Homo sapiens: one gene and its partner. The protein of the gene in region 1 purifies or fractionates together with the protein of each later gene. This does not show direct contact. Each region holds a gene or a part of one and is shown on either strand. Other genes may lie near its edges. The genes, in order: CT45A5 and SUPT5H.

What was found.
Region 2: the proteins of CT45A5 (region 1) and SUPT5H purify together in Homo sapiens (affinity purification with mass spectrometry; 2 studies listed by BioGRID). This does not show direct contact.

Annotation. Positions count from the first base shown.
Region 1 is NC_000023.11:135,780,296-135,790,784, reverse strand, and holds the start of CT45A5 (cancer/testis antigen family 45 member A5), read left to right. Parts: upstream 1-5,281; 5' UTR 5,282-5,548; exon of another isoform or gene 5,549-5,565; intron 5,566-9,049; 5' UTR 9,050-9,055; coding exon 9,056-9,224; intron 9,225-10,489.
Region 2 is NC_000019.10:39,460,938-39,471,364, forward strand, and holds part of SUPT5H (transcription elongation factor SPT5), read left to right. Parts: intron 1-3,860; coding exon 3,861-4,112; intron 4,113-5,542; coding exon 5,543-5,632; intron 5,633-5,737; coding exon 5,738-5,808; intron 5,809-7,284; exon of another isoform or gene 7,285-7,356; intron 7,357-7,818; coding exon 7,819-7,924; intron 7,925-8,141; coding exon 8,142-8,235; intron 8,236-8,324; coding exon 8,325-8,461; intron 8,462-9,181; coding exon 9,182-9,337; intron 9,338-9,439; coding exon 9,440-9,586; intron 9,587-10,419; coding exon 10,420-10,427. UniProt on the Homo sapiens protein: Component of the DRB sensitivity-inducing factor complex (DSIF complex), which regulates mRNA processing and transcription elongation by RNA polymerase II.

The DNA of each region.
Region 1 (10,489 bases):
CCGTAACCCAAATGTGCTTGAAAACAGGTTCTCTCTGAGTCCTTAGTTAGTCAGCAGCCTGGTTGATACCCTAACTTTGATTTTGTGAGATCCTAAGCAGAGAAACCAATCCAGGCTGCATGGATTTCTGATCTACAGAACTGCTTATATATTTGTGTTATTTTAAGCTGCTGAATCGGGGACAATTTCTTTTGCATTAGTAACAAACCTAATAGATGTGGTGCCTGCATATTCTGAAGTAACAAATGAAAATCAGGCATGAAGTTTTTTATTTTCTAGTCAACTGGTCTCAGGGAACTCCACATGAGATCACAGGTGCAGGATTAGGGAAGCTTCTCTTTTTCTGGGCCCCGGTCCATGCTAGCGGGGTTTCAGTCACTTGTCAATGGGTCCACGGTACTGCACAACATTTAGGTATATGCTAAAACAAGCATCTATTATGCAACTCGTTTCATGTTCCTTATTTAGTAGTAAGAAAGGCAAGATGTAAGAACTTGCTGTTCACCTTATAACCACCATCTTGACATGCCAGACTACCAGATTGTTAAACGCTTCACTCAGTTAGAAGGCCCCTGATTTTGTGTGAGAATTATTTCTCACATAATGTCTTGCAAGTGTGTTGCTACCATGTCTGGATTAGTTGCTACCTCCTTTTCAGTCAGCATGATGTCATCACTGCAAAGAATGGTGTCACATCTGGTTTAAGAGAAAGGTGGCCATTTTCCCTAAGAACTCGTTTAGGATATAAACCTAGAGAGTTGATATAAGCTTGAAATAGGAAATGATAGTACATTGCTGTCCTTTCTAGCTGAATTGAAATTCTTGTTTACGACAATTACTGAAAGAAAGCCAAACATTCACCTAATCAGTATTGTATATCAGGTTCCGAGGGATGTCACAGTTGCTGACACAACAAAACCACTTGTAGTACAGCAGCTGCAGTTGGAACAACAATTTGATTAAGTTTATGGTGCAATCTCGGCTCACTGCAACCTCCACCTCCCGGGTTCAAGCAGTTCTCTTGCCTCAGCCTCCTTGTGTAGCTGGGACTATAGAAACGCATTATCACACCTGGCTAATTGTTTGTATTTCTTAGTAGAGACAGAGTTTCACCATGTTGGCCAGGCTAGTCTCAAACTCCTGACCTCAAGTGATATGCCCACCTCAGACTCCCAAAGTGCAAGTGCGAGCCACTGCGCAGGGCCCCAGCTATTTTTTGTATTTTTGGTAGAGATGTGGTTTCGCCACTTTGGCCAGCCTCGTCTGGAACTCCTGACCTCAAGTGATCCACCCGCTTCTGCCTCCCAAATCCTGGGATTACAGGCGTGAGCCACTGTGTCCGGTGAAAACTTCACTTTTAAGTGAAACGCAGAAGCAAAATCTGATAATCAGAAAATGAGATACTGCGTGTTCTCATTCATATGTGGGAGCTAAACAATGGGTACACATGAAAATAAAGGTAGAAACCATTGACTCTGGGGACTCCAAAATGGAGGTAGAGGGGAGGGAGGGAGCGGGTCGGAGGGTTGAAAAACTACCTATTGGATACTCTCTTCACTATTTGGGTGATGAGTTCACTAGAAGCCCAAACCCCGGCACTGTGCAATTATATCCAAGCGAGAAATCTGTACATGTACCCTTCTGGCATCTATAATTTTAAAAAAGCTAACAAAGAAAGCTTCAGTTTTAAATCTTAACCAAATACACAGGAAAAGGATTACTATACTTGGACACCTTTACAGGTTTCTATGTTAGTTTTTGGTATTAAAGCAGAAACCTGTTCCTCGACCACTTTATTAATTGTATGTCCTCTTTGTACAAACATCGGAAATAGAAGACTGTCACTTTTGGTTCTGTAACTGTCTTGACTGCAGTCTTCTACAGCTTTCACAGAGTTAATGGTCCCTAGTATCTGCCATTCTCCAATTGCCCTGGGTGGCGAAATCGCTGCCATAGTAAACTTTTCACTGATAATTAGAGTTTCTGGAAACATGCAGGGCTCGTTATTTAAGAGTGACTCCATTTGGGCATTTTGGTGGATGGCCTACAGGTTTTCTTGCAGAGTATACTAGAGTCTCCAGAATGAATAACCCTAGGAACTTGAGGAACTAGCGCTTTCCAGAATTTTGGAAGCTGAGATACAAACATTGGTTTTCTCAAAAGCACTGCAAGTGGGAAGGAAAATCCATATCTAGACTAAATGTCTGTTCAGGTAAGAAGAAAGCACTTCTCTTTTTATAATAGAAGTGATCTATTGTAATCCACATACCAACTAGTGGCTGGCAGATCATTCTGGAGTCTGGTGCCAAATTGGGGGCTTAGTGTTGGTCTCCATTCCTGGAAGATTTTTCACTCAGCAATGACCGTAGCCAGGTTTGCCATGGTGAGTGGAGGTCCATGCTACTGCGCATAATCTCCAACCCTGCCAGTTTGACCACTTTGTTTGTTGAGCCGGTAAGATTGTGACACACGTGTTAGGGAAAGAGGCTGATTAATACCTAGATAATAAGTACCTTATCCATCTGATTATTAAAATTCTGCTCTGCTGAGGATACCCTTTGCTGAGAACTCTCATGAGACCCCAATATCTTCACATTGTATGTCCGTTTGGACAGGCCTGTCCACATATTTTTTTTTTCTCAGACTTCTTTGTCGCACATTTTTAATCGTGTGTTCTCAAAGTCCCTGACAATTCAGCGAATGAGTGGGACACAGCCTATGCATGATACATACTTACACGTCTGGATATGCCTCCTCCAAGAAGGTGCACTGCTCAAAGTTCTTCCCTCTGGGAGGATTTCCCTTCATCACTGTCCTTCAGGGCTGTCCCAGTCAGGACTGTCGTATGCAGCTGTCCACCTGTGGCTTGTGTGGTAGGCAGGATTCTAATTAAGCCCCAACAAGATTCCAGTCTCATGGTTATTCAATCAAATACTCCTATGAGTACTGCTCTGGTGGGATTTTTTTAATGCAAAAAATGAGTATTTTATTTTGATAGCACTAGAGGAAACAAACAAAACAACTGTTCCTACATCAAAGTGAAAACAATGTTTAAGCTTTCCTATCAATCAAATATATTCCAAAAGAAAATGTGTTCTATGAAGGTTCTGAAGCACAGGCAAATATTAACACAATAGGCTAAGAAGCTGTAATACTGAATATGACTCTCTTCTAACAGGGTACTTAACAAACATAATTTTTAATTTTAATTTTAATTAATTAATTTATTTTGAGACGGACTCTCCCTTTGTCCCCCAGTGACAATGGATCTCTGCCCCTTTGGAGTGCAGTGACGCGATCTCTGCTCACTGAAGCTTGCACCTCTCAGGTTCAAGTGATTCTCCTGCCTCTGCTGCCCTAGTAGCAGGGAGTACAGGTGCCCACCACCATGCCTGGCTATATTTTTTAATTTTAATTTTAAGTTTTTTACAAACATAACTTTTGAATTACAAAACCAGTGAAGTAATCCCTTCCAAATAATTGTGTCAATAGTGAAACTGCCTGTTCCATTAAAACTCGAAAAATTTCGCTGTAATATTTTTTACCACTATGGACAATTCAAGTAAATTTTGCTGCACTTAAAATAAGTTGTGAAAGTAGAAAAATGGGCCGGGCATGGTGGCTCTCCCCTGTAATCCCAGGACTTTGGGAGGCCAAGGCAGATGAATCACTTAAAGTCAGGAGTTTGAGACCAGCCTGGAGAACATTGTGAAACACCGTCTCTGCTAAAAATACAAATACCAGCCGGGCATGGTGGTACATGCCTGTAATCCCAGCTTCTCGGGAGGCTGAGGAAGGAGAACTGCTTGAACCTGGGAGGCGGAGGTTGCAGTGAGCCAAGATCATGCCACTGCACTCCAGCCTGGGTGACAGAGCCAGACTGTCTCAAAAAAAATAAAAAAGGTGGAAAAATATACAAAGTTCCAGATTAAAATGATTAATAGATGCAATATAATAAGGTTTCCCCTCCTTCCATCCTTTCTTTCTTTCTCTCTTTCTTTCTTCCTTTCTTCCCTTCTTTCTTCCATCCTTCCTTTCTTCCTTTCTTCCCTTCTTTCTTCCATCCTTCCTTTCTTCCTTCCTTTCTTTCTTTCGTTCTTTCTTTCCTTCCTTCCTTCTTTTTTCTTTCTCTTTCTTTCTTTCTTTCTCTCTTTCTTTCTCTCTTTCTTTTTTTTTGTAGACAGTCTTACTCTGTCACCCAGGCTATAGTGCAATGGTGCGAACAAAGGTCAATGCAGCCTCAACCTCCTGGTGTCAAGCCTCCCGAGCAGCTGGGACCACAGTTACACGCTCAGCTAATTTTTGTATTTTGTGTTAAGATGGGGTTTCACCATGCTGCCCAGGCTGCTCTTGAACTCCTGGGCTCAAGGAATCCACCCCTCTTGGTCTCCCAAATTGCTGGGATTACAGACGTGAGCGACCGCACTGGGGCCCTCATTTTTCTTATCAATTAACAATAATGGTTACCTTTAACAGATAGAGGTTGACTTTATTTATTGATTGATTGATTTTTATTTTTAGACAGAGTCTCACTCTGTTACCCAGGCTGGAGTGCAGTGGCATGATCTCAGCTCACTGCAAATTCTGCCTGCCCGGTTCAAGCGATTCTCCAGCCTCAGCCTCCCAAGTAGCTGGTGGGATTATAGGTGCATGCCACCACGCCCGGTAATTTTCTGTATTTTTAGCAGAGACGGGATTCACCATGTTGGTCAGACAGACTGGTCTCGAACTCCTGACCTCAGGTGGTCCAGCCCCTTCGGCCTCCCAAAGTGTTGAGATTACAGGCGTGAGCCACTGTGGCGGGTCGGGGTTGACTTTAAAACACAACCCCCTCAAATGAAAATTGCAGTTTGTTGTTGTTCTTTTTCTTTTTCTTTTCTTTTCCTTCTTTCTTTCTTTTTTTTTTTTTTTCTGAGATGGGGTCTCCTCTACCGCCTGGGCTGGAGTGCAGTGGCTCACTGCTACCTCCACCTCCCGGGTTCAAGCCATCCTCCCACCTCAACTTCCCGAGTAGTTGGGACCACAGGTGCGAGGCCACTAGGCCCAGCTAATTTGTGTGTTTCTTTCTTTCTTTCTTTCTTTTTTGATTAGTTGGTTGCTTTGTAGAGCCGGGGTCTCACTATGTTACCCAGGCGATTTCATCCCGCTGGGTGAGAAGGTTCTGCATTCCTCCGCATACGTTGCTGTGCAGTTGTTACTGAAGGTCGCCTGTAGAGGGCGCCAGAGTCAGCGAAGGGGAGGGCTGCGCTTCCTGGTTCTCTGGGGCACGAGGCTTCTCCTCAGCACTCTGGCGCCCCCAACAGGTTCCCAGTGTTCGGCTGGGGCAGGCACGCTGTGGCTGGCTACTTCCCTTCCTCCCATCCCCCTTGGGCCAAACGGGATCGGTGCTTCTGGTGAGACGCCTCCCCATGCACATCACTCCCAGGTGCCCTAGGGGGCACATTTCCCACAACTCCCAGAGGGCAGGTTTCTAGAAAGTGCCACCAGTGGGGAGGCGCCACAACTTCACTGCCATTTTGTGAGGTGCCGCCGTCTCTCCTCCAGCAAGGTCAGGACTTCAGGACTGTGAGTGGGCAGTTTTTCCCTGGATGCTTTAATTTCGCCCTGGAAAGTGTCCTTTTTCCTCAGAAAGAGTCTTTTCTGTGGTGTTCTCTGTCCGGTGTGTGGGAGGGCTCCCTTGGGGAAGTGGCTTAGCTCTGGGGACACCGCCATGGGCGCCTGTGTCAGCCGCGGGGGAGCGTTTTCCTTGGGCACCCCGTCTCGGCTATGTTGTGGGGCCAGGGGGCTTTTCTTGGGGGCTCTTGTTGGGGGCTCCCTGTCGGTGATGGAAAAGGCGACTTTTCCTGCTGAAATGACCTGAGCCCGGGGGGTGGGGGCCATGCCTTGGTTGCCTGTGTCGGCCTCGGGTGCGGCGGTGTTTCTTTCCCGCTCAGTCGCTGTCCTGAGGGGGGACTCTGCCCTGGGGTCACTATCTGTGCTCATGGAACGTGGTGGGGGTGGCTGTGCCCCGGACACATGATCGTAGCCCTGTGGGGTCACTGTCGGGGGCTTTATCTCAACCTCTGGTGGACTCTTCCTTGGGTACTGATGTCGGCCGTGAGGCGCATTTGTCCTCGGATGTTGCTCGCTCTCAGTTACAATGTGTTGGCTTTTCTTTGGTTCTGCTTATCCCCGTTGTGGACGCTTACTGGATGCTTTCTCTTGGTGCTGGGTTTTTAAAATTATTATCTGTAGGTGCTCTCTCCCGGTGCCGCCGGGGAGTGGGGTAATGTTCCTTGGATTCTCTAAGCCTATGGTGGGACTCAGGGAGCTCTGTGTCAGCCATGAAGGAGGCCACGTGACCTTGGGAACTCTGTCTCGACCCAGGTTGGGGTGCTTTTCCTCGGTTGGTTGATCGCAATTCTGAAGGAGCTCTTTCCTGGGATTCTATCTGACCTTTCAGCCACAGCCTCAGGTGTCTGTGTGGGAATGGGAGTCCAGAAATATTCGAAGGTTCCAGCTGTGCCACATTCGAACACTCGCAGTACAGTTAGTCTTTCATTCCAGCCACTCTGATGGGTGTGCAGTGATCTCTCCTTGTGTCTACACTCGCATTTCTCTGCTGATTAATGAGATCGAGCACCTTTTTAAGAAATTGTTTTTATTTATTGATTTTTGTTTGTCTTTTGAGATGAGGTCTCCCTCTGTCACCCAGACTGGATTGCAGTGCCACCACACCCAGCTATTTATTGTTTTCTTTTTTTTTTTTTTTTAGCACCATTTTATGTGTTTATTGGTCATTTAACTATGCCTTTTATGAAGTTCCTTTTCAGGTATTTTCCCCCAGCTTTTACTGAGATGTTTGTATTTTAAAAATGGATTTGTAGTTTCCATATATTCTGTATTTGAGTTATACGCACAGGCACACAGGCGTATATGTACATATACAAAAATACATATACAATTTTAGTATCTTCTATAAATCTTTTTTGCTTTTACACGATCTCAATAATGTGTTGTAGATGAACAGATTCTCTTAATTTTATTAATTAGTGTATTATTTATGGATAGTGCTTTTTATTATTTTAAGAAACATCTTTGACTCACCCAATGCCATTACGATAATATTCCTTTTCTTAAAATTATACTTTAAGTTCCGGGATACATGGGCAGAACGTGCAGGTTTGTTACATAGGAAGACACATGCCATGGTTGTTTGCTGCACCCATTGACCCGTCATCTACCTTAGGTATTTCTCTAATGCTATCCCTCCCCTAGCCCCCCAACCCCTGACAGGCCCCACTGTGTGATGTTCTTCTCCCCGCGTCCATGTGTTCTCATTGTTCAACTCCCACTTATGAGTGAGGACACGTGGTGTTTGGTTTTCTGTTCCTGTGTTAGCTTGCTGACACATGTCCCTTCAAAGGACATGAACTCATTCTTTTTTATGGCTGCATAGTATTCCGTGGTGTATATGTACCACATTTTCTTTATCCAGCGTCGTGGCAGGCGCCCGTAATCGCAGCTACTCAGGAGGCTGAGGCAGGAGAATTGCTTGAACCTGGGAAGTGGAGGTTGCAGTGAGCAGAGACTGTGCCACTCCACTGCAGCCTGGGTGACAGAGCGAGGCTCCGACTCAAAAAAAAAAAAAAATGTCTTCCAATGCATGGAAAGAAAATTTTTCTCCATTTACTGCAGTCTTGAATTTCTCTGAGTGATGTTTTATAATTTTTGTGAAGTACTCTAGCACATCTTGATTAGATTTATTCCTAAATATTTGATGTTTTTGGAACTGTTTTTAATGACATTTGAAATCTCATATTCTAATTATTCGTTATACAGAATTGCCATTCTGTATAATGCCATTCATTATACAGAATTGCTATTCATTATACAGAAATGCCATTGGTTTTCATTGTATCTAGTAAGTTGACTAAATTTGCTTATTAACTGTAATGATTTTATTCTTCTGCATTTTTCTATGTACAGAACAATGTCATCTGTGAATAATGACAGTTTTATTTCTTTCCAAATTTTAAACCTATTGTATTTTCCTGATGATATGGCACTTTTTGGAACCTCCAGTAAATTGTTGAATGGATAGTGGACATCTTTGTCTTGTTTTCAAACTCAGGGAGAAAATACTGATACGTCACTATGAAGTATGGCATTTAAAAATTTTTTGTACATATGCTAACCAGAATAGGAAAGTTGCCCTTTTTCCTAAGTTGGTGATAGTTTTTATCACGAATGGACTTTAAACATTGATCCATGTATGAAAATGATCATGCGGTGTTTCCCTGTTTTTGTTGTTGTTGTTGTTGTTGTTGTTAATGTGGTGCACTACATTTGTCGATTTTCAAATGTTAAATCAGTGTTGCCTTTCTGCAATATACTCCACCATGGCTGATGTATGTCCTTTTTAAGTACTAGTACATTTTATTTGCTCACCCTTAGTTTGGAATTTTTGTGTCTAAGTTCGGGGTGATCTTGGCTTGTATTTTTGGCTTGATCTTGTAGTTTTTCATTCTTCTAAATTCCTTGTCAGATGTTGTTATCAGTTTTGTATCAATCTTCTAATAAGGGTTCCTAATAAGGGTTAATACACGTTGGTTTATGCATCTATTTGAATATATAAGCATAAATACTTATATATTAAATATATATGATATATAATATATAATTTAAAATATAATGTATAATAAGGGTTAATACAGATTGGTTTATACATCCATTTTTTCTAATAAGGGTTAATACAGATTGGCTTATACATCTTCAAATAGGTAATAATATTTTTATCTATTTTTGGTTGATGACAGCTGCTTATTCCACAAGCATTCTGATTGATTTGGTTATACCATCTTTCTTCTGTTTTACTTTGTGTACATTAAAATTAGGTTTCTTTTCCTGAGAACAGAGTGTTTGTTGAGACTTGGTAAATCTTGGCTCATGATTAAAAGTGAAATTAATGATTCAAAGTCTTGGTTGTATACACATATGCAGATTGCTTGCCATTTTGTGATTGTTAGATTTTTGTCATGAATAGAATATATTCATTGATGTTTTTCAGGAAACAATGACCGATAAAACAGAGAAGGTGGCTGTAGATCCTGAAACTGTGTTTAAACGTCCCAGGGAATGTGACAGTCCTTCGTATCAGAAAAGGCAGAGGATGGCCCTGTTGGCAAGGAAACAAGGAGCAGGAGACAGCCTTATTGCAGGCTCTGCCATGTCCAAAGAAAAGAGTAAGTAAGCCTGTCCTCACGTCCTCCTCATGCTCCTGCCTCATCCCCTCCAGAGAAACTGTCCTTGTCAAGGTTAACAGTTTCGGCTGACATTGCCATTAACTTCTCAGCAGCATTTGACAGTTGTTCACTCGCTTCTTCATGAAAACCTTCTAGGATTTCCATTTCCGACAATCTTTTTTTTTTTTTTAATTTCTTGTCCGTATTGGTGAATCCCTATCATTTTTTTCTTGAGATGGAGTTTCGCTCTTCTCAGCCAGGCTGGAGTGCAGTGGCGCGATCTCGGCTCACTGAAATCTCCGTCTCCTGGGTTCAAGTGATTCTTCTGCCGCAGCCTCCCGAGTAGCGGGATTACAAGCACCAGCCACCACACCCAGCTAATTTTTGTAAGTTTAGTAGAGATGGGGTTTCGCCATGTCGGCCAGGCTGGTCTGGAACTCCCCCCCTCAGGTGATCCACCCACCTCAGCCTCCCAAAGTGCTGGGATTACACGCACGAGCCACCGCCCCCGACCCCATCATTGTTTTTTTCTACATTTCTTTTTCTTCTCTTCTCTAAATACTGTAAAAAATTCCTGAACCCCAGCATCTCTCTCTCTCCTTCTATTCCACTCTGCCACGATCAATCACTGAGCTCCTGAGATACCTCCATGTTTCCCATTATTTCCCGCATCAAACACATACCCTCCAACCCTGCAGCCGGGTCATGATGTTGGCATGTAAATCACGTGATGCCATGTCGCTCCTGAACACCCATCCTCAACACTCCTAAGCACTCAGAACCGACTGCGAAGCAGCTTTGGTCTGCGAGGTTCTGCGTGGCCTGGCCTCCGTCACCCTCTCCTCACACGGGCCCCATCATCTCCTGACTCTCTCTGCTACTGTCCTTCACCCCATAGTGCCCGGTCCATCCCCACTCCAGCCCATATCCTTGGCCTCACCGCAACCTGGAACTCCCCCTCTGCCTCTGCGCAGGCAGCTCTGCTTTTTCCTTCAAGCCCTGCCCAAGGGTACCTCCACAGAAGGCTCTGCCCAACCAGCAGCAGCTCCTGGGGCTCCCTCTGCTGCTGTTGCCCACAGGCCTGTGGACTGCTTCCTTACCACTAGCCCAACACTGTATGTTTCATTTGCTCATTGTGCACGTACTGTCTGACCGCCCCATGAGGATGTGAGCTCCACAAGGGCAGGGAACGTTGCTCTCTGGGCTGTTTACTGCTGATCCCCAGCTACCGGCACGCTGCCTGCCACAGACGATGAATAAATGAG
Region 2 (10,427 bases), on another chromosome or scaffold:
GACAGTTGTAGGGTTTGCAAACTATGCTTTTAAATGTGCTCAAATGTCCTCCTCAAAGGCCGGCCATGGTGGCTCATGCCTGAATCTCCAGCACTTAGGGAGGCTGAGGTGGGTGGATCACGAGGTTAGGAGTTCGAAACCAGCCAGTTTGAGACCAGCCTGGCCAACATGGTGAAACCTTGTCCCTACCAAAAATACAAAAATCAGCTGGGCATGGTGGTGCTTGACTGTAATCCCAGCTACTTGGGAGGCTGAGGCAGGAGAATCACTTGAATCTAGGAGGCAGAGGTTACAGTGAGCCAAGACTGCGCTATTGCACTCCAGCCTGGGCGACAGAGTGAGACTCCGTCTCGGGGTGGGTAGGGGGTGGAATGTCTTCCTCATTATTATAGTAATAAGTGTCCCTGCCTGTCATGGGTGAGATTGGGATTTGTGGGGTATGATTCCCCAACAGGGAGGTTGAAAAGGTACCTTTTGGCTAGGTGTGGTGGCTAATGTCTGTAATACCAGTATTTTGGGAGGCTGAGGCAAAAGGAGTTCGAGGCCAGCCTGGACATCATAGTGACATAGTGACAACTGATTTCTACAAAGAAAATAATAATAGGCCGGGCGCGGTGGCTCACGCCTGTAATCCCAGCACTTTGGGAGACTGAGGCGTGTGGATCACCTGAGGTTAAGAGTTCGAGACCAGCTTCACCAGCATGGTGAAACTCCGTCTCTACCAAAAATACAAAAGATTAGCCAGGGGTGGTGGTGCATGTCTATAATCCCAGCTACTTGGGAGGCTGAGACAGGAGAATTGCTTGAACCCAGGAGTTGGAGGTTGTAGTGAGCCAAGCTCGTGCCACTGCACTCCAGCCTGGGCAACAGAGCGAGACTGTCTCAAAAAAAAAAAAAAAAAAATAATAATAATAATAATTAAAAGAAGTGTGCTCAAATCCTCCTACATGGTACCCTGGGGTAAAATTCTAGTTACTTCATTTGAGTTATGTCTCTGATTATTATTTTTTTTTGAGACGGAGTTTCACTCTTGTTGCCCAGGCTGGAGTGCAATGGTGTGGTCTCGGCTCACTGCAACCTCTGCCTCAGCCTCCCGAGTAGCTGGGATTATAGGCATCCGCCACCATGCCCGGCTGATTTTTTTGTATTTTTAATAGAGACGGGGTTTCACCATGTTGGCCAGCCTGGTCTTGAACTCCTGGCTCAAGTGATCCACCCGCCTTGGCCTCCCAAAGTGCTGGGATGGCAGTTCTGAGCCACTGTGCCCAGCCTAAAATTTAATTTTTTTAAAGTGTAAACTGTGGTGGATTTTATATATTGTAGTGTATTCATAACCATCATCACCATCTAATTCCAGGACATTTTCATTATCCCAAAAATAAACCGATACCCATTAGTCATCACTCCCCATTCCTCCCTCCTCACAGCTCCTGGTAACTATGAATCTACCTTCTTTCTCTGTGGATTTGACTATTGGAACTCTGAATGGTTCATACAAAGGGAATCATACAATATGTCGCCTTTCGTGACTGACTTGCTTCACTTAATGTTTTCAAGACTCATCCATATTGTAGCATATATCAAGACTTCATTTTTTTGTTTGTTTTTTTGAGATGGAGTTTTACTCTTCTTGCCCAGGCTAGAATGTAATGGTGCAGTCTTGGCCCACTGCAACCACTGCCTCCCAGGCTCAACTGATTCTCCTGTCTCAATCTCCCAAGTAGCTGGGATTACAGGCACCCGACACCACGCCTGGCTAATTTTTGTGTTTTTAGTAGAGATAGGGTTTCAGCATGTTGGCCAGGCTGGTCTCGAACTCCTGACCTCAGGTGATCGGCCCACCTCGGCCTCCCAAAGTGTTGGGATTACAGGCGTGAGCCACTGTGCCCAGCCTTAATTTTCTTTTTTTTTTTTTTTTTTGAGACAGAGTCTCGCACCGTTGCCCAGGCTGGAGTGCAATGATGCGATCTCGGCTCACCGCAACCTGCACCTCCCGGGTTCAAGCGATTCTCCTGCCTCAGCCTCCCAAGTAGCTGGGATTACAGGCACCCACCACCATGCCCAGCTAATTTTTTTTTTTTTTTTTTTTTTGGTATTTTTAGTAGAGATGGGGTTTCACCATGTTGGCCAGGCTGACCTTGAACTCCTGACCTCAGATGATCCACCCCTCAGCCTCCCAAAGTGCTGGGATTACAGGCATGAACCCACTGCGCCTGGCCAACCGGCCTTAATTTTTGTATTTTTAGTAGAGGCAAGGTTTCACCATGTTGGCCAGGCTGGTATTGAACTCCCGACCTCAAGTGATCCTCCTGCCTCGGCCTCCCAAAGTGCTGGGATTACAGGCATGAGCCACCGCTCCTGGCCTTTTTTTTCTTTTAGTTGGTATTTACAGCTATACATTTACTTCTAAGCATGGCTTTTTTCAAATCTCATAAGTTTTGGTATCTAGGAGTGTGTTGCCATGTATTTGTGAATTTCCTAAGTATCTTTCTGTTGGTTTTTAACTTCATTACATATGGATGGAGAATATACTTTATATGATTTTAGTTCTTTTATGTTTACTGAGACGTGTTTTATGGCCTAACCTGTGGTTTATTCTGGAAAGTTTAATATGCCCTTGAGAAGAAAGTGCATTCTGCTGTTGTTAGATGGAGTGTTCTTTTTTCCCATTTCCGCTTAATAAGTGGAAAGTGAAGACGAAATGTTCTGTCTATAGCTGGCTATTAGGTTTAGGTGGCTTACAGTGTTGCTCAAGTGTTCTCTTTCCTTGTTGATCTTGGGTCTAGCTCTATCCATGATTGAAAGCAGGGTATTGCAGTCAGTGATTGTTACTGTTGAGTTGTCAGTTTCTTCCTTCATTTTCATTAGTTTCTGCTTCATGTATTTTGAGGCTCTGTTAGTTTCATATACATTTGTAATTCTATCTTCCTGATGGATTGACCTTTTTATTGTTACAAAATGTTTTTTGTTGTCTCTGGTAGCAATTTTTGTCTTAAAGTATATTTTGTCTGATGTAAGCACTCCTTTCTTGGTTCTTCTTCTAGTTGCTTTTTTTTTTTTTTTGAGACGGAGTTTTGCTCTTATTGCCCAGACTGGAGTGCAATGGTGCGATCTCAGCTTACCGCAACCTCCACCTCCCGGGTTCAAGCGACTCTTCTGCCTCAGCCTCCCGTGTAGCTGGGATGACAGGCATGTGCCACCACACCCGGCTAATCTTGGATATTTTTAGTAGAGACAGGGTTTCTCCGTGTTGGTCAGGCTGGTCTTGAACTCTTGACCCCAAGTGATCCACCCGCCTCGGCCTCCCAAAGTGCTGGGATTACAAGCATGAGCCACCGTGCCCGGCTCTAGTTGCTTTTTTACACAGAACATATGTTGGATAGCTTTCTATATTAGTACATACAGGTTAATCTAATTTTTATTTTATTTTTTATTTTTAAGAGACAGGGTTTCACTCTGTTGCCCAGGCTGGAGTGCAGTGGTGCGATCTCAGCTCACTGCAGCCTCAACCTCCCGGGCTCAAGCAGTCCTCCCTGCTCAGCCTCCTGAGTAGCTGGGACTACAGGCATGTGCCATCACACCCAGCTAGTTTTTGTATTCTTTAACTGCAACATTGTATTTCATGGTACATTAAGCCATAAGTTAACTAGTTACTGTTTCTGGATATTTTTAAAATTTTTAGTCTGGTTTGTTTGCTGTGATAAATAATTCTGCAGGGAACACCTTTGTGTCCATGTCATTGTGCCAGTGTGTTTCTGTGGAATAAATTCCTAGAAGAGGGACTGCTGATGAGTGGCAGTCATTTCTGTTATTAGCCGTTGTGTCTCACTGTTTCCTCCTTCCACCGGCTCACCCTGCAGCCCCTGCAGATCAAGTCAGTAGTGGCACCAGAGCATGTGAAGGGCTACATCTACGTGGAGGCCTACAAGCAGACCCACGTGAAGCAGGCCATTGAGGGGGTGGGCAACCTGCGGCTTGGCTACTGGAACCAGCAGATGGTGCCCATCAAGGAGATGACAGACGTGCTCAAAGTGGTGAAGGAGGTGGCCAACCTGAAACCAAAGTCCTGGGTCCGCCTCAAGCGGGGCATCTACAAGGATGACATTGCTCAGGTGCCCGGGGCGGGGTGGCATGGGGGTCAGGGTCCCTCCATTCTGTTCTCCCTTCCTTTCCTTTTGTCCTTCCCACCCTCTTTGTGCTGCAGAGAATAGAATCCCACTCAGATGAGTTGAAGCAGAGCCTGGGTTTTGTGAGCACACAGGAAACGGTTGGCTGTCTTCTGTGCACATTCCCAGGCGTGTTGAGTAAAGGTCTGAAGGATCGGAGGGCGTGAGGCATGTGGAGCTCTTGGGGAGGAGTGTTGTAGGCAGCAGGAGTGGCCTGTGAGATAGGATGGCACAGTCACTGGCTACAGCAGGGATGGCGTGAGATGAGTTAGGGAGCTCACGAGGGCCTGCGGCCCATTGGAGAGCTTTGGTGTTTACTGGCGTAGGATGGGAGGGCTGTAAGGGACACAGGCAGACTTCAATGTTAATAAGATTTCTCTGGTGACTGTGTTGAGACTAGACCACTGGTTCTCAAGCCAGGGTGATGTTTCCCCAGGGGACATTTGGTAACGTCTGGAGACATTTTTGGTTATGTCAGCTGGGGAGGGGGTTGACGATTATGGCATCTAGCAGGTTAAAGCCAGAAATGCTAGACACACACATCCTCCAATGCACAGGATGGCTGCCCACAACAAAAAATTACCTGGCCCAAAAAGTCAATAGTGCCAAGGCTGAGAAACCCGGGAATAGCCTGGAGGGGGCCATGGGCAAGAGCGTGGAGACCAGGGAGGAGGCTGCTGCTGTAGCACATCCCACCCAGATGGCAGTGCTGGTGGGATAGGACCAAGACCCTAATACACGTTGAGTGTCTCTAACCTGAATTCTTGAGACCACAGGTGTTTTTCAGATTTCAGATTTTTTCAGCTTTTGGAATATTTGCATTATACTTACCGGTTGAGCATCCCAAATCTGAAAATCCAAGAGTGAGCATTTCCTTCGAGCATCATGTTGGTGCTCACAGGGTTTCCTATTTTTGAGCATTTTGGGTTTTTGGATTTGGAATGCTGAGACTGCAGTGGAGGAGGGGAAGAGGTCAGGTATTTTGAAGGCAGAGCTGATGGAATTTGCCAACGGGTCGGGTGTGGGTGTAAGAGAAACAAAGGAGTCAAGAGTGGCTCCCAGGTTGTGTGCCTGAGCAGAGGGAAGAATGGAGTGGGAGGCGGCAGGTTTGGGGGAATCAGCGGTTTGGCTGCGGTCGTCCTGGATTTGAGGGACCTTTAGACATCCAGGTGGAGATACCAAGCAGGCAGTGGCTACTCAGTGCCAGAGTTGAGGGGACAGACAAGCTAGCGTGGGACTTTTGGGAGTGGTCAGCAGCCTGGTTTCTTCCCCACCATCCTGCGTCCCTTCTCCTTCCTAGCATCTCCTGACCCTTCTTGTGTCTGGGGTCAGGGAGGAGAGTGGGGCCCTGCTGACCTTCTGCTCGCCCTGCTCAGGTGGACTACGTGGAGCCCAGCCAGAACACCATCTCCCTGAAGATGATCCCACGCATCGACTACGATCGCATCAAGGCCCGCATGAGCTTGGTACTCAGGGGAATCTGTGGCCTGGGGGGGAGGGAGTGTGCTCGATCCCACTGGTGGCCAAGCCCCCTCCCTCACCCTTCCCACCCATGCCCCTTTCCTCCATAGAAAGACTGGTTTGCCAAAAGGAAGAAGTTTAAGCGGCCTCCACAGAGGCTGTTTGATGCTGAGAAGATCAGGTGCGTGTCCTTGGGGACTGGCTGGGCTGGGTCCCCAGGGCCGGTGTGTAGAATGTGCCTTTTGCAGGTTCCTCCCCAGGGGTGGCCCCGCCACAGGTTTAGCCTGTGAATTGGTTAGCTTGGCAGTATAGCCTCAGGCAAGTCACTTCACATCCCTGTGCCTCAGTTTCTTCTGCTATAAAGATTGATGAGGCTGGGCGCAGCGGGAGGGAGCACTTTGGAAGGCTAAGGCAGGAGGCTTGCTTGAGGCAAGGAGTTCGAGACCAGCCTGGGCAACATAATGAGATCCCATCTTTTAAAATAATAATAATAATAAAAAGAAAAAAGTTAAAAAAATATTTAAAAAGATTGATGAGGCTGGGCGTGATGGCTCACACCTATAATCCCAGCGCTTTGGGAGGCCGAGGCGGGCGGATCACTTGAGGTCAGGAGTTCAAGACCAGCCTGGCCAACATGGTGAAACCTTGTCTCTACTAAAAATACAAAAATTAGCCAAGGGTTGTGGTCAGCTCCTGTAATCCAAGCTACTTGGGAGGCTGAGGCAGGAGAATCGCTTAAACCCACGAGGCAGAAATTGCAGTGAGCCGAGATCGTGCCACTGCACTCCAGCCTGGGTGACAGAGCGAGACTCCGTCTCAAAAAAAAAGAAAACAACCTCTGCTTCCTCAGATTATAGATTATAGTGAGAATTAAATAAATTAGTATGCATATGTACTCAGAATGCCCTTGGCACGTAGTAAGTGTGATCCATGGTGTGATATATTGAAATGGGATTCATGGACTATGTCAGGCTTTAGAAAGTCTCCTTTCCTGATCTGCTTATGCCCACTTGAGATGGGGGGGTATGGAGTGCCTTTCCCTCAGGATGCCCCCCAGACTCCCTAGCTGGGTAGAGAATTGGAGCAGCCCAGGAATTTCAACATCCCAGGGCCAACTGGGGGCTCCGGCAGGGAGGGCAGGAGAGGAGGACATGGAGAAACGAGAGGTGCCAGTGACACTCTTCCCTCTGGTCCTGTTCTAGAACTAATTGTGTGTGATTCAGCCAGTCAGGTTTTCCTTCAGATAAAGGAAGAGCTGTGGAATGCACCTTTGAGTCTGCACCCAAGGGCCTTGCTAATACTTCACCTGCCTGAGTTCGGACCCATTTATACCACTGGTTTCGACTCACCTGAACCTCTCTTTGCAAAGAACAAACCCTAGTGCTCCCTTACCCCCCAGCAAGCCAGCTGACCAAGTACCCCAGCATGCCCAGCAGAGCATGCTGGCCCCTCTCCCAGATTCACCATGGGAGAAGGCGATTGCATGAGCGCAGGAGGAACTTGACCTGCTCCTCCATGAAGGAGGCTCCTTCCCCACCCCGGAGACTCGGAACAGGCACTAAGCGGCCGCCACTCCACATTTGGGGCCGGGAGCTGCAGGCTTGGGAGTCCCACCTGCCTGCTTTTGAATCCTGTCAAGACTGTGGCTTGGCACCCTTGGGCATGTGATGTGACCTTCCTGAGCCTGCATTCCCTCACCTGGAAATGATGAGCAGTTACTGATGCCACAGATTTGGGGAAGAGCCTGTGAGGTCATGAGTGTGCAGGCCAGGCTGAGCGCTCTGCGAATATTCACTGGTATCATTGTCTGAAACTGTTATTTTGTTCAGCTAATGTTTACTGCATACTTTCTGTGTACTGGGCACTATTCTTGGTGAAATTTAGTGAATGTTACATCCCTGACCTTCTGGAGCTGACATGCTAGTTAGGGGGACAGGTCAAACACTAGATTGTCAGATGGTGATCGGTGCTCAAAGATAAATCAGGGAATGGGTGGAGGAGTGCAGGGAGGTGGGAGGCGGGCCTTTGGGGTTTGTGAGAAGTCACTGCTGCCAAGAGGGTGTGTGCTGGGATGGGATGGGTCAGTCTGCCTGTGGTCCTCTCCTTCTGTTGCCAGCTGAGAAGACTGAGGTACAGCAAGATTTTCTTCTTGACTCTCCCTTCTAATCTTCTCTCCCCCATCAAATTCCAGGTCCCTGGGGGGTGATGTTGCCTCTGATGGTGACTTCCTCATCTTTGAGGGGAACCGTTACAGCCGGAAGGGCTTTCTGTTCAAGAGCTTCGCCATGTCTGCTGTGGTGAGGGTCCCAGAGGGGTGTTGGTAATGGGGGTGGTGTGAGTGTTCTCCTGCAGGTGATGCCCTGGGCTGTGGGTTATCTGGTTCTGTCCCACTCCTCAAGTTAGGAGTGTTCCCTAGGAGAATTATTCCCCTAGGACCCACTCAGCCCACTCAGCTGGGCTGTTGCACTGACCTCGGTCCATTTCCTTCTCTTCCCCTCACCGCTGGGGGCTTAGATCACGGAGGGTGTGAAGCCAACACTCTCTGAGCTGGAAAAGTTTGAGGACCAGCCAGAGGGCATTGACCTGGAGGTGGTGACTGAGAGCACAGGTATTTGATCCCCCTCTATAACCTGGGCCAAGGAGCAGGGGCGGCCCATGGTGGCAACCCCCGAGTCAGCCCTACGACTGCCCCTGCAGGGAAGGAGCGGGAGCACAACTTCCAACCTGGGGACAACGTGGAGGTCTGTGAGGGTGAGCTCATCAACCTGCAGGGCAAGATCCTCAGCGTGGATGGCAACAAGATCACCATCATGCCCAAGCATGAGGACCTCAAGGTGGGTGCCCGGTGTTCTCGGGCAGGGGTTGGAGTGTTCAGGCACATCTGACTGTATGTGGCTGTCGAGGCGGTGGTGTGCCTGGTGACACCTGGTTTCCAGGAGGGTAAGTTGAGGCCCTTCTAGCATTCTCAGGTGCCTGAGAGGCTCTGTCTGAGTGCAGCTCAGGGTCGGTGGGCAGCAGGCCTGCCTGGTGGTGTCTGTCTCTGGAGAGTGACTTGGTCTATCTTTTGTTTCTGAAAAGCAAGATATCTGGGTAGTACTGGGTTGAGAGTGTGATTAACCAAGGAGTAATCTGAGGCTTGACTTTGTTTGCTTAGAGCGGGGTGTGTGTTTGTCTGTGTCTGGTGTATGTCTGAGGGGTTGTGCAGGCCCAGTGTGATGTGTGGGGTGAGGCTGTCTCCGGGTGGGGCTGAGGAGCTGTCCAGTCGGGGGTCCTGTGTCTGAGGGGCAGGCTCTCTGTGTGGGTATAGGTAGGCATCGTGTGTCTTGAGGGCGGGCTGGGGTAAAGGTTGTCCAGGTTGGTGTCCTGTGTCTGGGGTCAGCTGTTTCTGGGGCAGTCTGAGGGGTCGTCCAGGTGGACTAAGGTAGTCTGGGGTGGGTGGTAAGAGCCTGAAGTGGGGTTTTTGAGAACATGCGTAGATTCTGAAGACAGGAGGGGCAGGCAGGTTGTGGTGGTCTCCCTTCACCTGTTTGTTGTCCCCACACCCAATCCCCCAGGACATGTTGGAGTTCCCAGCCCAGGAACTTAGAAAATACTTCAAGATGGGGGACCACGTGAAGGTGATTGCTGGCCGATTCGAGGGCGACACAGGCCTCATTGTGCGGGTGGAGGAGAATTTCGTTATCCTGTTCTCTGACCTCACCATGCATGAGGTAGGTGGATAGAAGGGTCGGGGAAGGGTGCACGTGCCAAGAGGAGACCCAGGTAGGCGAGCCACCTGGACTGGGCCTCACCCCTTTCACCATCCCTGGCAGCTGAAGGTGCTCCCCCGGGACCTGCAGCTCTGCTCAGAGACAGCATCAGGTGTGGATGTTGGGGGCCAGCATGAATGGGGCGAGCTGGTGCAGCTGGATCCCCAGACTGTGGGTGTCATCGTGCGACTAGAACGGGAGACCTTCCAGGTGTGTGTGTTGTGCTCTGTGGCGGGGACTTGCTTTTAGGAGGCTTCCTGTCCCTCAACCCCTCATCCTGGGAGGTGGCAGAGCCCCCAGACTGCTCTGGGTTGCAGATCTGGCTCTGTCACTTACATCTGAATGGCTGATAGTGGGCACATGGCAAGTCATTGATCCCTCCCCTTGCCTGTTTTCACACCCTATAAAATGGAAACGAGAGCAGCGTCTACTTTGTTCATAGTGAATGATTCCCTGAGGTTAGATCTGTACCCTGGTGGCTGTTGCTCGCTCAAGGATGGAGTGCCACATGTGCCCTCCTGCCTTTGCTCCTTCCTCATGGATGTGGGAGTCATGGAGCACAGTACTTAGGATCCTGGACTCCACATCCACATCTTGGCTTTGTTGCTCCTGTGCTGTCTGACCCTGGGCTAGTGACTCACCCTCTCTGAGCCTGAGTTTCCCTCTGTAAGATGGAAATCATGACAGAATCCACCTCAGAGGAAGTTTTGAGGCTTCAGTGAAATCTTACGGGGCCTGACACAGAATGATGGATGAACAATGTTGCTATCAGCCCCTTCTTCCATCTCTCAGGTCCCTGTTGCCCAATCGGGGGTGGAGTCTCCTTCCAAAGGGTGTTTTAGAATGACTGGGAACATTTTTGGTTGACCCAGTACCTAAAGGGTGGCACTCTGCCTGCCTGCCCCGCAGCCAGGGAATTGAGATGCCTTGTGGAGCTTGGGACTGTCTCCCACAAGGAAGGATTATCCCACTTTAGGGAACCCCTGCCCCGTGTCTCCCCTTCCCATTCTCACCCCCACAGCCTCCCTGCTCTCCCTCTGTAGGTGCTGAA